3 separate regions of the Homo sapiens genome follow, and regions 2 and 3 are each reported to be linked to region 1. Evidence: microRNA targets listed by miRTarBase, many of them from high-throughput screens and not tested one by one. Region 1 holds a microRNA gene; each other region holds the end of a gene's coding sequence.

Evidence for each region. The annotated mature microRNA hsa-miR-511-5p reads GUGUCUUUUGCUCUGCAGUCA and lies in region 1 at 1,989-2,009, shown strand. An mRNA with a match to its seed (bases 2 to 7 or 8) in the 3' UTR can be bound and repressed. Matches are read on the target gene's strand: a 7mer-m8 pairs with bases 2 to 8, a 7mer-A1 pairs with bases 2 to 7 and ends in A, and an 8mer does both.
Region 2: miRTarBase lists SMURF2 as a target of hsa-miR-511-5p. Seed matches in the 3' UTR shown: 7mer-A1 at 4,564-4,570.
Region 3: miRTarBase lists CA8 as a target of hsa-miR-511-5p. The part of its 3' UTR that is shown has no 7-base or 8-base seed match.

Annotation. Positions count from the first base shown.
Region 1 is chr10:17,843,134-17,848,605 of GRCh38, forward strand. MIR511 (microRNA 511) reads left to right here and starts at 1,974; the gene lies at 1,974-2,060. MRC1 (mannose receptor C-type 1) reads left to right here. Exons shown (of 30, transcript NM_002438.4): 6 at 2,156-2,302.
Region 2 is chr17:64,540,900-64,546,099 of GRCh38, forward strand. It overlaps SMURF2 (SMAD specific E3 ubiquitin protein ligase 2), which reads right to left. Exons shown (of 19, transcript NM_022739.4): 19 at 1,383-5,048. The coding sequence ends at 4,949. Among named protein-coding and RNA genes, the nearest start is that of CEP95, 37 kb to the left of the region's middle.
Region 3 is chr8:60,204,392-60,209,591 of GRCh38, forward strand. It overlaps CA8 (carbonic anhydrase 8), which reads right to left. Exons shown (of 9, transcript NM_004056.6): 8 at 4,359-4,528. The coding sequence ends at 4,394. Among named protein-coding and RNA genes, the nearest start is that of CA8, 74 kb to the right of the region's middle.

The sequences.
Region 1 (5,472 bases):
TGTCTCAAAGTTGAGAGAGGTATTGTATTGATAAATAAATGTGTAATATGATTTACTAATTAGCACATCAATTAATAACTTAGAGCTAGAAATGTATTTGTTTGAAAGTTTCTTTTTAGTGCTGATACCTTATCTGTTAGTTCAGTTATCCTGTTATTTTAGTTACAGTATCAGCAAATGTTTAAGATACCTTTATGCTTATTACTAACTTTATGATAACTTTATGCTTATTACTAACTTTAAGATAACTTTGGCCAGGTGCAGTGGCTCACGCCTGTAATACCAGCACTTTGGGAGGCTGAGGCGGGTGGATCCCGAGGTCAGGAGTTCAAGACCAGCCTGGTCAAGATGGTGAAACCCCGTCTATACTAAAAATACAAAAATTAGCTGGGCATGGTGTGGGCACTTGTAGTCCCAGCTACTCAGGAGGCTGAGGCAGAGAATTGCTTGAACCCAGGAGGTGGAGGTTGCAGTGAGCTGAGATCACGCCACTGGACTCTAGCCTGAGTGACAGAGCAAAACTCCATCTCAAAAAGAAAAAAAAAAGATAACTTAATGCTTATTACTAACCATTATTTTCTTTGTGTGGTAGTTAAATAAACTTTAAAAAAATCATTTAATTACCACACAAAGAATACCACCAAAACTTTAAAAAGGTTATTTAGGTTATTACCTGCTCCAGACTTTGTGGAGCAGGTAATATGATTTCCGTCTTGCAGGAAAGGAAGTGACATTCAGGCACAGGTTACATACACATTGGAGGTCACAAAGCATAGGTATTAACAGAATGTGGCTCATTCACCCTGTCTTCAGGTGGAAGGTGAAGCTAGTTTGGGGAGTACTGGTTTTTAAATCATATATTAGAGTAGCAAAACGCATGTGAAATGTATCAATGCCTACATTCATCCCTTTAGCAACGTTGACTTTATCTGGTTCTTTAATCAGTTTCCACTAAGAAATGGATAAGGCATAGCTGCTGAAAGTCTTCTTCAGTAGGCTGAGTTGAAGATATTGAGACAGTTTTAGTTCTGGGAGCACAGCATGCTGCCCATCTAGCTCTCCCATTAGCTTTTTCTCCTCCATTTATTTTTATTTTTATTTTTGAGACAGAGTCTCACTCTGTCACCCCGGCTGGAGTGCAGTGGTGTGATCTCCACTCACTGCAACCTCTGCCTCCCAGGTTCAAGCAATTCTCCTGCCTCAGCCTCCCAAGTAGCTGGGATTACAGGTGCCCGCCAGCTCCCCGGCCGATTTTTTTGTATTTTTAGTAGAAATGGGGTTTCATTATGTTGGCCAGGCTGATCTCGAATTCCTGACCTCAGTTGATCCATCCGCCTCAGCCTCCCAAAGTGCTGGGATTACAGGCGTGAGCCACCGTGCCCTGCCCTAATAATGTTTAGTGTGGCAGGTTTGGAACATCATGTATTCTTTCTTTTTAATAAATTCTACTTGTAGATTCAGAGATACATGTACACGGTTGTTACATACCTAGGTAAATTGCATGTTGCTGAGGTTTGGGATATAAATGATCCATCCCATCAACCAGGCAGTGAGCATAGAACCCAGTAGCTAGTTTTCCAAACTTTGTTACCCTCCATTCCTCCCCCATCTCATAGTCCCCAGTTTCTGTTGTTGCCATCTTTGTGTCCATGAGTACTCGGTATTTAGCTCCCACTTAGAAGTGAGAACATGGCTATTTGGCTTTCTGTTCTGCATTAATTCGCTTAGGATAATGGCCTCTAGTTGCATCCATGTTGCTGCAAAGGACATGATGATTTCATTTTTTTTTATGGCGGCATAATCATGCATTCTTTTCATTAGGTACCTCTCTTTGATAATGTAATCCGTTGTGACAACTGTTCAAGTTTTAAGGTGTAGCTTTATTAGCTGATAATGGGGGAAAGGGTTGTTTCAAAGAAGTATATTTGCTTTATCAACATTCTAAGTATTGGAATGATCCAACGATAAGAAAACAATAGACACCCATCGTGTCTTTTGCTCTGCAGTCAGTAAATATTTTTTTGTGAATGTGTAGCAAAAGACAGAATGGTGGTCCATTGAATCCCCAGGATGAAGACATGAGGAGACGTGGGAGGGATGCTATCTGCTGGGAATAGCTATAATAGTCCACTTTAACTTTTCCTTTTCCTCGAAGGAAGTCCATCAGCTGAACCTGGAAAAAGCTGTGTGTCACTAAATCCTGGAAAAAATGCTAAATGGGAAAATCTGGAATGTGTTCAGAAACTGGGCTATATTTGCAAAAAGGGCAACACCACTTTAAATTCTTTTGTTATTCCCTCAGGTAAGTGATCTATGGGATCTGAAGTGCCTCAACTATTAGAATTGAAAGATAAGTAACATTACAGCTTAGGTGTAACTGTTGGAATGCCGCCAGAGGTTTTGTGGATAGTTGATGGGGTAAACTTAATGATATTACTGCAATATTTCTGTGTGCTGGTTGCTAGTATTTCCTGAGTGTGCGGCGGTGTCTGGGCATTGTGGAGATCCTCTGACCTAAATAAAAATGTTACCTTCCCAATCAGTCCTCTGAGGTAGGTGTCATGATTCACATGCTATAGTTGAGGAAAAAGATATTCAGAGGATACAGAAACCTTGCAGACATGGCAAAACCGGAATCCAAGCTAGAAAGTCAACATTTGGAAGGGATGTTTATATTAGGTCCTCACGGCTCTATCTGGGCTTCCTTGCTATTCAGTGTAGCGTCTTATACTAAAGTTTTCATAAAATAGAATAAAATATCTAAAAAGTTGTAACTGAATTTTATTTATTTATTGAGACAGAGTCTCATTCTGTCACCCAGGCTGGAGTACAATGGCGCGATCTCAGCTCACTGCAAACTTCGCCTCCTGGGTTCGTGATTCTCCTGCCTCAGCCTCCCGAGTAGTTGGGATTACAGATGTGTGCCATCACGCCCAGCTAATTTTTGTATTTTTAGCAGAGATGGTGTTTCGCTGTGTTGGCCAGGCTTGTCTTGAACTCCTGACCTTGGGTGATCTACCCACCTCAGCCTCCCAAAGTGCTGGGATTACAGGCATGAGCCACCGTGCCTGGCCTGTAACTGAATTTTAAATATCGGCTAGACTTCAAGAAAAAAAAAAATCAATTGTGTTGTCCCTTACAATTTTATAGGAGAATAAACTACTAAGGCAAGAATTCTTTCTTCCAATTGATGAAAGACAAACTACATATTTTTTATTATTACCTCTTTTTGGAGGGACAGCGAATGCTTTAAATGGTTTAATTTATTTCTGTTTTTCTGCTGGAGGAAACTGACAATGTGGCATTCTTGTTTTTTTCTTCCCATTGGCTTTGAAAGCAATTTCATGTATTTTAAAATACGCTTGACATAGCTAGAGATTCAAAAGATACAACATGATAAATAATAAGGTTTTCCCTACCTCTCACCTGTAACACCCAGTTTACCTTCCTGGAGAATAATTGTTTCTGGGTGTGTATCCTTAGTTATTCTGTGACTATATAAACAAATATATTTATAATTATTTTTGTTTCATACAAATGGCAGTATACTATAATATGTTTTTATCCTAAGTTTTCCACTTAACAACAATTTTGGACATCATTCCACGTAGAATATAAACAGCTTCTATGTTTAATTTTATGGCTGTCCAAAAGCTATTGCAGAGACAGCACATATATTTTTTTGACCGATCTCCTGTGTAATGGATTTTTAATTTAATTTACTTCCAATCTTTTATTAATACAAACAGTCCTGAGGTAAATAACTATATACATTCTATGCACATCATTTCATGCATGTGATCATTCCTGGAAGTGGAATTGTTGGATTAGGGAGGAGATGTGTTTGCAATTTTAATTGATATAGATTTGGCCAAGATCCTAAATAGATATAGATGCGGGACCTGGATGTTGGGTTTGATTATCCTTTACAGGCTCTCCATAGTGACGGTGGGTATCTTTAGAGAAAGCTCACCATTTTTGCATTTTACCTCTACTATTCCTCCTCTAGGAGAAATAGTGTATTTTTTCCTTTTTTGGAAGCCTTCATTACAATTCTCTTTCTAAGACTTGGAATTTCCATGTTGCCAAAGAGGAGAATAGTTACTTTATAGTTTCTCTGGTACAGCACTCAGAATTCTGTAACTTGGCCTTACTGCTTAACCTGCCGGTGCTGGGATCCTCATGTGTAAAATGGAAATGTTCATGACTCTTCTTCCTGAGATAAAATTTTGTTCATTTCATCAAACACTCAGTACATTCTTATTCCTCCATGATGCCTTCTTCACTCGCTAACCACTTGATGTCAGTTTCTGAACATCTCTATACTCCCTGGATTAATGATTCTGTTTTATCTATAAACTCAAATAAACCAGAGCTTGGAAAAGCGTATCAGAGTTCAAATTATGCAGCATACGGGATTAGCAACAGCCTTAGGCAAGAATTCAACCTCAAACCCTGTGAATTATTGTAACACTAACCCGTTTGTCCATAATCCTCAGGTCTCTAGGGCTGTACTCTCTGGCTTAGCAGCCACTTAACCGCATGTGGCCACTGAGCACATGAGCTGTGGCTAGAGGAACAAATCATCTTCTGTGGCTGCCCCAGGGAACTCCCCTTCATTTCACTCAAGTTGGTTGTTTTCATGCTTTCAAATATGTTTAAAGTTCATCATTTCAGTTTTTGAAGGACAGCATTGGCTGATACTATTTTCAATTTCCTAGGTAGCAAAATTAAAATAACCCACCAGAGGGCTCCAAAGCTGTACTAAGCTTGCTTTCTTTTTCTTTTTCTTCTTTTTTTTTTTGTAACCACTGGAAGTGCACAGAATCTAAATTGTATTGAGGGAATAGAATTTTTTTAAATATGCATTTTTTATTACAATTGTACAGCATTTGAGCCTCATGACTGAGTAGTTACTTGTATGACTGCAGGGCACAAAATCCTGGGCTTAAACAATGATGTTTCAGATACTCTCCACCTTTAAGGGAAGATACGACCAATTCATCAAAGGAATAGTGAAGAAAGGTACCCTATAACGAACATATACTAAGACAGCCATTTGAAAACATTTAATATGAGCTTAAATAATATATACGTTCACTTTCATTTGGCAATATAGTCCCCTTCTAAGCAAAACATGTTGCCAAATTACTGTTTGAAATAGTATCTCTAGAATAGTAATAACAAGCAGCCATATATCAACTATAACTTCAATTCTTTTTCTCTTCCAATACTCAATACGCTTATATGTACCAGGCCCTGTGCCAGGCTCAAGGCAATAGGGATGAATAAACATCTGCCTTCAAATGTCTTTATTGTCACTTTCCCCTAGCTCATTACTATTAAATTTTTGCAGCGTATAATCAAGATTATACAATTTGATCCTATTAGTAGCGAGGCTGAGGATGTTGACAGCTGGTTTAATTAAATAATGATTGTGTGGTGCTTGTGATTTACAAGCACACTCTCTCT
Region 2 (5,200 bases), not on the chromosome of region 1:
AACTTGGATAATTTGTAGACTATTATAATACTAAAAAACAAAAAATTGTTTTTGAGACAAGGAAGGTCTCAGTCTGTTGCCCAGGTTGGAGTACAGTGGCTCAATCATGGCTCACTGCAGCCTCGGCCTCCCAGGGCTCAAACAATCCCCCCATCTCAGCCCCACCTCCAGTAGCTGGGACTATCAGCCACGTGCCACTGCGCCCAGCTAGTTTTCATATTGTTTGTAGAGATGGGGTTTCGCCATGTTGCCTAGGCTGGTCTCAAGCTAGGCTCAAGAGATTCACCTGCTTTGGCTTCCCAAAGTGCTGGGATTACAAGCGCAAGCCACAGCACCTGGCCTAATTTTTTTTTTTTCTTTTCCTGAGACAGAGTCTTGCTCTGTTGTCCAGGTCGGAATGCAGTGGCGTGATTTTGGCTCACTGCAACCTCTGCCTCCTGGGTTCAACTGATTCTCCTGCCTCAGCCTCCCAAGTAGCTGGGATTACAGGCGTCCACTACCACACCTGGCTAATTTTTGTATTTTTAGTAAAGAGACGGGGTTTCACCATGTTGGCCAGGCTAGTCTTGAACTCCTGACCTCGTGATCCGCCCATCTCAGCCTCCCAGAGTGCTGGGATTACAGGCGCGAGCCACTGCACCCGGCCAAAAATCTTTAATGTACTAAAACTTTATAAATTTTAGATAAAACCAGTAAACACAGCAATGAGGGACAAAGCAAAACAAAAATATTCAAAAGAATATTAAAGCATATAAACAAAAGCATGCTCACCCTTTGAACTTTAATACACTGCTACTACTTACACATTTCCCAGGTGTTCCCTTCTGTTGTACCCTATGCTGTGTAGACTTACACAGACCATATTCATTCCTTTTCTATCCATAGAGTTAGCTGGACTTTAGTCCACTATCATTAATACAGTAGTGAATTATAAACCTTAAAATCCACAGCTTCTAGAAAAAATACAATTGATTTCTCCTTTTCATTTTGAGAATTTTACTGCTCGACATACCAAGGTAGGGCTGGCAAATATGAGCCCCTGTCATAGGCCTGCCCTACAGAGCGGAGATGTATTATAGCAAAGATGGTTGCAGACTGGTGACAGGACCAAGATGCTCTTCCCCACTAGCCCCTGACCCCCCTCAGAAATCCACCTATGCGGTACCCCCAACAGGTACTACCAACTGAGCAGTCACCACGGCCGGAGAAAACGGGCACCTTCCCTGCTCTGCGAGGAGACAGAAAGCTGAGCTCTGCAACATGACAGAGGCATCAACTCAGGATGGCATGTGTTCTTGAACTTTTCATTTTGTGACTCATGTTGTCACCCTCCATAGAGCCAACCATAAATGTTTTCAAAACGATTCATTACAAACTCAATATTCTTTAAAAACGTTGATGCTGTGACAGTGCAAACAGCATTGATTTTATTGCTCGACTTCGGCATGGGCACATACATAGTTAATTTTTAAAAACCATTTATACAGATGTTACTGATAAAGCTCATGTAACAAATGAATGAAAATACAAAGAATATCAAAGCTAAAACACTCTGTAATAAATACAAATACAATGAAAATGATAAAACTTTGTTTTTAAAGTCAGTCTGAGAGAAGAATATTACATAAAGTGAACTAATTACATCTAGAAATAAAACAACTCAGCATTTGGAACAATCATCCTAACATGTTAAATACCACAAATGGCACCCGTTGACTGTACGCTTAGAAAACAAGCAGAAGGAGCCACTCTCCCAAACTAAGGATGGTTGGAACAGCCTCTAACTCCCAACAATCCAATCAGTCCAATGCACTGGAAATTCAAAGCCCAGATTTAGTGTTGTAAAGTAAAGCGAATTACATTGTATTTGAAAGAAGAGAATCTTGTGCTCCGGACTGTAAATACATGAAAGAAAAAAAGGCTTGGTAAAAAACCCATTCGGGGCAACAAACTATGTGCAAAACAAAATGTACACTATACACTATACACTATGCACTATTTAAAAACTACACCAAGATACAAGGCCCTCTGAGGCAAGACTTACCTCTCTGTACTGCCTATGAGCTCTACAAAGGAATCTCTGTTCATAACTAAGCATTCATGATGGAAAGGCAAGAGTATGAAAACAGATATCACATATCTGAAATAACAATACAGCTAGAGGGAAGACAAGAAAAAACCAGTTAAGAGGGACATGGAAATAAATATTCACATTAAACATGAGGTGCAAGTCCATGGTTCAATAATACATTGGGGGTTTTTGCTTAGCACCTATTTGGAAGTAATCGGGTAATGTAACTTTGAAATGGAAATCTAAATCATGTTTTTATATATGTTGGTGATAACATAGACTGTTATGGAGAGTAATTTCTTTTTTTTTTTTTTTTGGGCGGGGACGGAGTCTCACTCTTGTCGCCCAGGCTGGAGTGCAGTGGTGCGATCTCGGCTCACTGCAATCTCTGCCTCCCAGATTCAAGCAATTCTCCTGCCTCAGCCTCCCAAGTAGTTGGATTACAGGAGTGCGCCACCATGCCCGGCTAAATTTTGTATTTTTAGTAGAGACAGGGTTTCACCACGTTGGCCAGGCTGGTCTCGAACTCCTGACCTCAGGTGATCCGCCCACCTCGGCCTCCCAAAGTGCTGGGATTACAGGTGTGAGCCACCATGCCCAGCCAATTTCTTTCTTTTAAAGCTCTATTAAGTCATTAGTATAAAGTTAAAAAGGCACTCAAAAAGCAATGGTATTTGCCTGCTTTATATTGTATATTAAAATAAGTGATAGTAGCATTTCATTATTACTGTATCCCTGTCAGTTATGATTTCTGTATTCATTATGTACTTTTTTACTGAAAGATTTTAAAAGTAGGCACAATTATAAACTGCACTAGTGCTTTAATATAAAAGAGAGATGGGTCTGCAACCAGTAAAGTACTATCATGACAGCTGAACATTACTGATTATCAAATAGCATAGAAACCACTTCCATACATTTCAAGATGCTCTTCAGTACTCAGAATGCAATGTAAAAAAAACAAATTGTTTGAGAGGAAAAAGGTAGGCATAAGCATATTACCACTGCACAGTTACAACTATGACTAGCTTGCTTGTGGCAGTTGAATTTGGCCAAATGAAATACATTAAAATACTTAAAAACTACACAAGTAGTTCTCAACTTTTTTAAAGCAGCAAAATCTCCACTTTTTTTATCCCATCCATTCCTCCCCGCCCCACTGCACCCCATGAAAGCTTACTTGAAATTCCAATATACATAAGAAAAATGGGCTGTTCTGGGTAAAGGGGGTGGGGATATGGAGCCTAAGGCCCCTGCTCAAATACCAACTAGGCCTTCCCCCTCGCTCCCTCTCATTGCCCCTCTTCTCTTAAACCATTACTCCTGAGGCACCCCTGAGGAACCCTTTGGCTCCAAGAACACAGACTGAAACCCACTCCATCACATGAAACAGAACACAGAGGACCTATTTACTTGATAACTTTAAATTTTGCAGCTTAATTATCATGAAAATTTGCTTATTTCACATCAATGTAAAAAAAAACTGATAGTACATATTTTTGATGGTTGAATTTAAAAATCCAACTGTGATTTCAGATTTTTTCAATCCCTCACCCCAGAGTTTTCGTTGCTTCTGGATCATTCAACATGCACGCACCTTGAAAGCTAAATCTGGACGTTTCAAAATCAGATGCAGATCTTCAACACCAAGGGAAGCGGGATTCCCTTACTTCCAAAATGAACTCTTCAAAGTAATTTACGCCATAGAGTTAGAATCACTGTTCATACTACCGCCCCTCAACCCCACTTCATTCTGTTAGGTAAAAGCAGGATTTTCTAAGCTTATTAATAATCTTTAGAGCAAAATTCTTCCTTTTTCATAACTGTAGCTGATTAAAATTATGAGCAGTTAACGCTTTAGGATGGTTTTGTTAATGGAAACTTACACTGTAGTTAAAATACAATATAAATTAGGTGCACTTGTCAGAGACTTTGGTTTATAGGAATAGTCCATATATTAAAGATAAGCTGACCCAGCAAAATAACGAAAATCCCATCCCATCCACATGCTCTGAGAAGCTATAAAAATGCAGTATTTTAAGATTAAAAGTAAATCCAAAATACCTAATCATATTGACTCAAGATAAAAACATTAGGTTTTTTTTTTTTTAAAAGAGTCTCTTAAAAACAGGGAGCCCCTGAACACATCTTATTGTCACAAATAAATGACTAAGTTTAGACTAAATGGTTGCATTAGGAATTTGACAACCAAAATTATATCGCTGTATTCCAGGAAATCCGTTCTTGAAAAATGTAAAAAAGACCCACTTAGACTAGGTTGAAACATATAATGCAAAATATAATGCTCTGCTATAGAAAAACACAAACATGTAAATGGCTTAATTTCTTAAAGATGATTCTTTTAGCCAATTGTTTACAAAGGTAGAATAATTCAAAATAATTTTATTTTTTTTTACAAAGAGCAAGTACAGGAGCTGTTCAAGATCATGTATTCAATCAAAATGAAATGTGACTTGTACCGACTGCTGAAGTTGTCTTGATGTTTGAGAGACTTGAAATCTGTGAAGAAATTTGAATAGATTACCTTTTATAAAAATAGTAGTAGTCTTTAAGTGTAGAATACTGCCTAACTCTGGAAATGTAGGAAAAGTCAGCATTCTTTAGGTTCAAGATATTAAGTTTAAATAGCAGCTGAATGTGGCCTCATGGCAAAGCATAAAGACCTTTTTTTTCCTTGAAAAGGAATTTCAAAATTGTCCTTTCCCCTCACAGTGTCCTAAAATGTAAAAAAAAAAAAAAAAAGGGGGGGGGGGGGAGTGTTTTCCTGTATTTCAGCATATTCTTTGAAACTCTGCTGAAAGGAGGCTGTCAGTCAGGGTTGTATAAATAGAGTCCTGGGTAAATCCTTGAAGCTTGTCATTCCACAGCAAATCCACATGTTTCTTCAATGGCTGTTAGCAGCTTTTCATATAGCTTTTCATAGCTTTCATAGGGTGGAATGTCTATTCGATTGAAGCTGTGAATAAGCAAATCAAATTTTATACAGTTCATTCAAAATAAGTAAACTGGCCTAGCAAGTGTATACCAGTATAGCCACATCACTCTGTGTCACACAGAAAACTAAAAGGTATTTCTCTAAAACAGAGATGACCACTTTTGGGTTTTCCT
Region 3 (5,200 bases), not on the chromosome of region 1:
TTTTGTTTTAATTCATAGTGGGAGGAAAAAATCATTCTGAAATTTTTATCCATGATAAATTATTAACATTTCTAAAACATAAAAAGGAAGAGATATATTTTAAAGCACGAATTATTTTCTTTGTTTAGTAATCTTGAAGAGAGCTCATACAGCTCTTGTATTTTTCATTGGTGGGTTAATAATTTTTATATCACATAATCAAAACATAATAGGTATTCTGAGCATCCTTGGTGTTTTGGCATTTTACTGAAATCATTTTGAGATCTGGTAGGAAATCCATTCCAGTTGGAGGAAATTCTATGAGATATAATAAATAGAAAACAGCTACATCTGTAGAGCCTTCAGTTCTAACCCTAATGCTGTGCACCATGTTAAATTATCAGAGGAGAGTCCAAGTTCTACTGACTGAAAATATGGCTTTGAGCTTTCCATTTAATCTGGAAGGATAATAGCTTTCACCTACTTGGTCATTCAGAGTGAACATTCTCACTTTCCTTTCCTCACACAGGCACCCCCTTCTCTATAATGCCTTACCCTCTTCTAACCTGTAACTCTTTTAGGTTATCAAAGAAGACTGATATGAAATTGATACTTGTTATAGCTTTATTAAAGCTAAGAAGACAATATTATTAACCGCAAAAGTACAAGTAGGGAAGAGTTCAACAGTCAAGGATAACTTCAAAGATCCCAAAAGAAAAATAAGGGCAAGTTTGACAATGGGACTATTTGGAGATGCTTGCTGAATAACCCCATTTTTCTGGCTTTGTTTCTTTTTTAACGTATTTAGGGCATTCTTATTTTTCCACATTTAAGGCAGAAAAAAAGAGAAACTAAAGAGCCGTGTGACATTGCTTTTTACAGAAAATAATTATAATTCATTATAGTTACTGTAAACATGTATACAGCTTAACAATATTTAGGTCACAAGCGAGACAGTCTTTGAGCGTCAGAACAGCCTTTTAAAAATGGGCTAACACTTTATGAAGTAAAAAGGCAAATAATCAAATAATCATTTTGCTGGAAGATGAGTACCAATGTCATGATACCAAAAGTAACAAGTAAACTGGACCTTAAACTTGTTATATCATTTGTTCATTGTTATTAAAATACATTTAGTTCTCCTGCATCATATAGAAAATTCAATGGGTAAAGGATCATTTAATATCAATAGGCACCCATAAATCTGAATTAGCACCGCTGAACCAAAGAATTTCCAGCACCTGGATGACTTACATACTAATTCTTTAAACAAGTATAATACAAAATCATAGTTCATACTTCTTAAATGGTAATATAAAAAGTCACAGATTACTCATGGGAATAATAAAGCTTGGTTATCAAAGTCTTCCAGGTGCCCAGACATGTCATTTTTTTAAAAATCTGTCATTTTAAGTCTAAAACTAAAGTTATTTCAGTAAAACATAGCTAAAATATATCTGAATTATTTTAAACATTTTTTAGAGAACAACTACCAGAGAAATGTCTTTTCCTTTTTAGTTCCAAGAGCTTAAATGAAACATTCATGCATTAAATTCAAAGTCTGACTGTCAAATCATTTCACTTTAATAAAAATTTGAATTACCTGCCTTAGGGCATTATTAAATATCAAATAAAAAGTACACACACATAAGTCTGATTCCCAATATAATTTTTATATAGAACTCTGACCAGATTTGTATTACACATTTCAAGATAAAAGTATTCATAAAAAAATGAAATAAGAATTAGTCACCTTAGAATTCCTGTACCATTCTTAGGAATTTGGGAGCAAATTATCCCCTTTAAGTAATCTCAGCCACCAAAGTAAGAACACAAATATATCTTCCTTTTAGAAATAGTACCTAAATTGTAATTAACTCAAAACTTTGAAAAACTACACATTATTCATCTATCATATAAAGAATATGAAGTATGTGAAATATACAAAATCTCATAAACAACATTTCTCTGTGTGTGTGTGTGCGCGTGTGTGTGTAAAAGAGAGAGAGAAAATAATAATAGTCATTTAGATATTTAGAGAATGGCAACTCTGGTCTAGGACAAGATACAAACCAAACATTCAAGGGAATAATCTCCCTTCATTAAAAGTATCATTTACAGGTATTGACATTCACAGGGAGTATACTAACTAAACCTAGACTGGAGAAATGCATAAATTCACGCTTTGCAACCCTCATCCCACCCCCGCTGCCTCTTGGCCTCTCCTGTGAACACATCCTTCCCTCTTCCTCTGCTCCTATCCATCTTCACTGCTGCTCTCCCACTCCTAGCTCCTGCCCCTTCATCATTAAATGGTAAGAGCAAGTCATGGGTACACAGCAGCTCTAAACCACCACCTCCTTCTTTCTTCCTTCCCATTGCAGCACAGAGAGTGCCCATCCTCTCAGCAAAAGCCAGTCTCCCTGTGTGCTTAGGATTTCATCCCTTTCAACTTTTCAGACTTCACTGCTCCAGCTCCTCCCAGAAGCAGTATCTTCAGCCTCTCTCCATCTACTTGCTCCTTTCCCACACCCCAGCATATAGACAAGTTCTATTTCTTTTGTTTAAAAAAGAAAAAAAAAAAGACTTCTTCAATCCCACCCCGTCTCTGTTGCTGCGGCCTCCTGCCCCACCCCAGCCCACCAAGGTGGCTGCGACCTGGAGTCTCCAGCTCCTCCCTTCCTATGGCCTTTAGCCTGCTGCAACCACATCCCTCCTTGATGTGTCACTCGACCGCCAGTGTGGCAAAACTCTCTAACCTCTGCCCATGTCGTGGTGAAGAAAAAGGGCTCTGCCAGTCAAGCTGCCTGGATCTCCTTCAGCTCCACTGCTCAATCACTGTATTACTTTGGCCCGTAACCTAACTTATCTGTGTCTTGGCTAACTTGTCTGTAAAGCCTCCCACAAGATTTTATGCACACTTAATTAAGTAACCCCATTAGATCCATCAGAACATTATATGAACATATACAATGTCTACACCCAATACGTCCCTATTTCAACCCAGACTTGTTTTCTGTTCTCTACTCTTGAAATGCTAATGACCTTCATGACCAGAGTCCGCTATTGCAGTTTGTGGTTGACAGGCATCTCTCACTCACTGTGCTGCAACTCAACTCTTTATCTTCAACCAAACAGGGCCTCCCCGCAGCTTTCCCACTGCCACTCAGTGGCACTCCATCCAGGGTTTCCAAAGTGTAAGACCCCGGAATTTATCTTTGACACTTCCATCTCCCTCCACCCCTCATCCAATTCATCACTAGCTATAACCTGCGATTTCTATTTCATATACATCAACTTCTCTCCACCTCCACTGTTCCTATTCTAGTGTCCAAGCCTCCGCATCTATCACCCTGGCTACCTGGCAGACTTCTTCGTTTTTTTGTTTTGTTTCATTTTGTTTGAGACACGATCTCAATCTGTCACCCAGGCTGGAGAACAGTGGTGTGATCTCAGCTGACTGCGGCCTCCACCTCCCAGGCTCAAGTGATCCTCCCACCTCAGCCTCCTGAATAGTTGGGACTACAAGCGTATGCCACCACACCCAGCTAATTTTTAAATTGTTTATAGAGATGAGATTTCGCTGCTTCCCTAGGTTCTATTCCAACAGATGCCTTCCCCTTGGGAAGCTGTGGTTTGCCAGTGATGTACAATGACCTATGCACTTAGGAAATTTACAAGGTAAATAAATAATCCAATATATAGTTTGTTTTATATTTTATCTCTTCCGTGTTTGTGATATTTTATTTTGTTAGTTCCTTAAGAGTAAGGAATACATACATTGAATTCTATATATTAAAATACATAGATTATGTTTCAATCAATAGTGTATCATATTCAGATAATTAATAAGTGCTTCTCAATTTATCATATAAAAGGCACTTCCATAGAAGAAGTATTTCAATGCATGCCAGATATGCTCCCTCCCCTGAGAAACAAGAGGATCAATTCTGCAGGAGACGAGAAGGGTCCACACTGAGGCTCACACGCTCCCCAAGTCCCCTCCTATGTGCTCCTTGGTCACTGGGACATGACTGGTGCTGCTTCACGGGGACAACATGGTAAGTTACTAAAGAGGTATGCATGCATGTCACTTTTTCTGGGCCTGAGGGTGTCTGTTCTTATGAAAGCCACCAAAACTTGGAATTAAAGGCTACTCTGATAGGAAAATATAATCATAGTTTTTCTTCAATACTGCATAAAATTAAAATACCTACTTGACCTGTAATTAACAGAGCTCAAGAATGTGTCATAAATTTTATCAAGATGAAGTACATACGCTTTTATTACTAAATTACCAGGATCACAATAAGTGTACCTTTGGTACGCTAGGTTTAAGTAGCTGTGCACCTCATTTTCCTTACTTAATCTGGACATACCCTCATGAAGACAGACTTGTTCCTGTCCTCTTTGGCTACTGAAATGCAGCTCTAATGACTCTGTCACTAAGAGGCTGAGTGGGCCGAAAGTTGTCTCCCAAAATCCCATCACAGCCTTCCACAAGTTCTGCCCCCTTAACATGTGTCCTCAGCCTTCGAAATTCTTCTATCTGAAAATAAAAGCAGAAGAAAATAGATTAATCAATTATCGGACATTAACAAGATTGGAGTTTCATAAATGACATGCATAAAATATGTATAAATTACAAGAATTATTGAAGAGAAAATTAAAATTAAGCTTCAAAAAGAAAAAAAACAGACTTAATTCTTCCAGACCTAAGACGTTAGAGAGGACCCTTTCAAGAAATGACAACAGAAGTAGACATATCAAGATCTCTGAACAACTCAAATAGATAAAGAAATCTGCTCCATTTGTTAATGTAAAAATGATACAGGCCGGGCACAGTGGCTCACGCCTGTAATCCCATCACTTTGGGTGGCCAAGGTGGGCAGGTCACAAGGTCAAGAGTTCAACAGCAGCCTGATCAACACGGTGAAACCCTGTCTCTACTAAAAATACAAAAATCAGCCAGGCTTGGTGGTGCACACCTGTAATCCCAGCTACTCAGGAGGCTGAGGCAGGAGAAATCACTTGAACCCATGAGGCGGAGGTTGCAGTGAGCCGAGATCACACCGTTGCACTCCAGCCTGAGTGACAGAGCCAGACTCCATCTCCAAAAAACAATGATACAAACCTCTCCCAAAAAGGTTTTATGCCTATCTATAGCATAATAAGAAAAAGTGAACAAATGAATGTGCTCTTAAATGCTTTCCAAGTACAT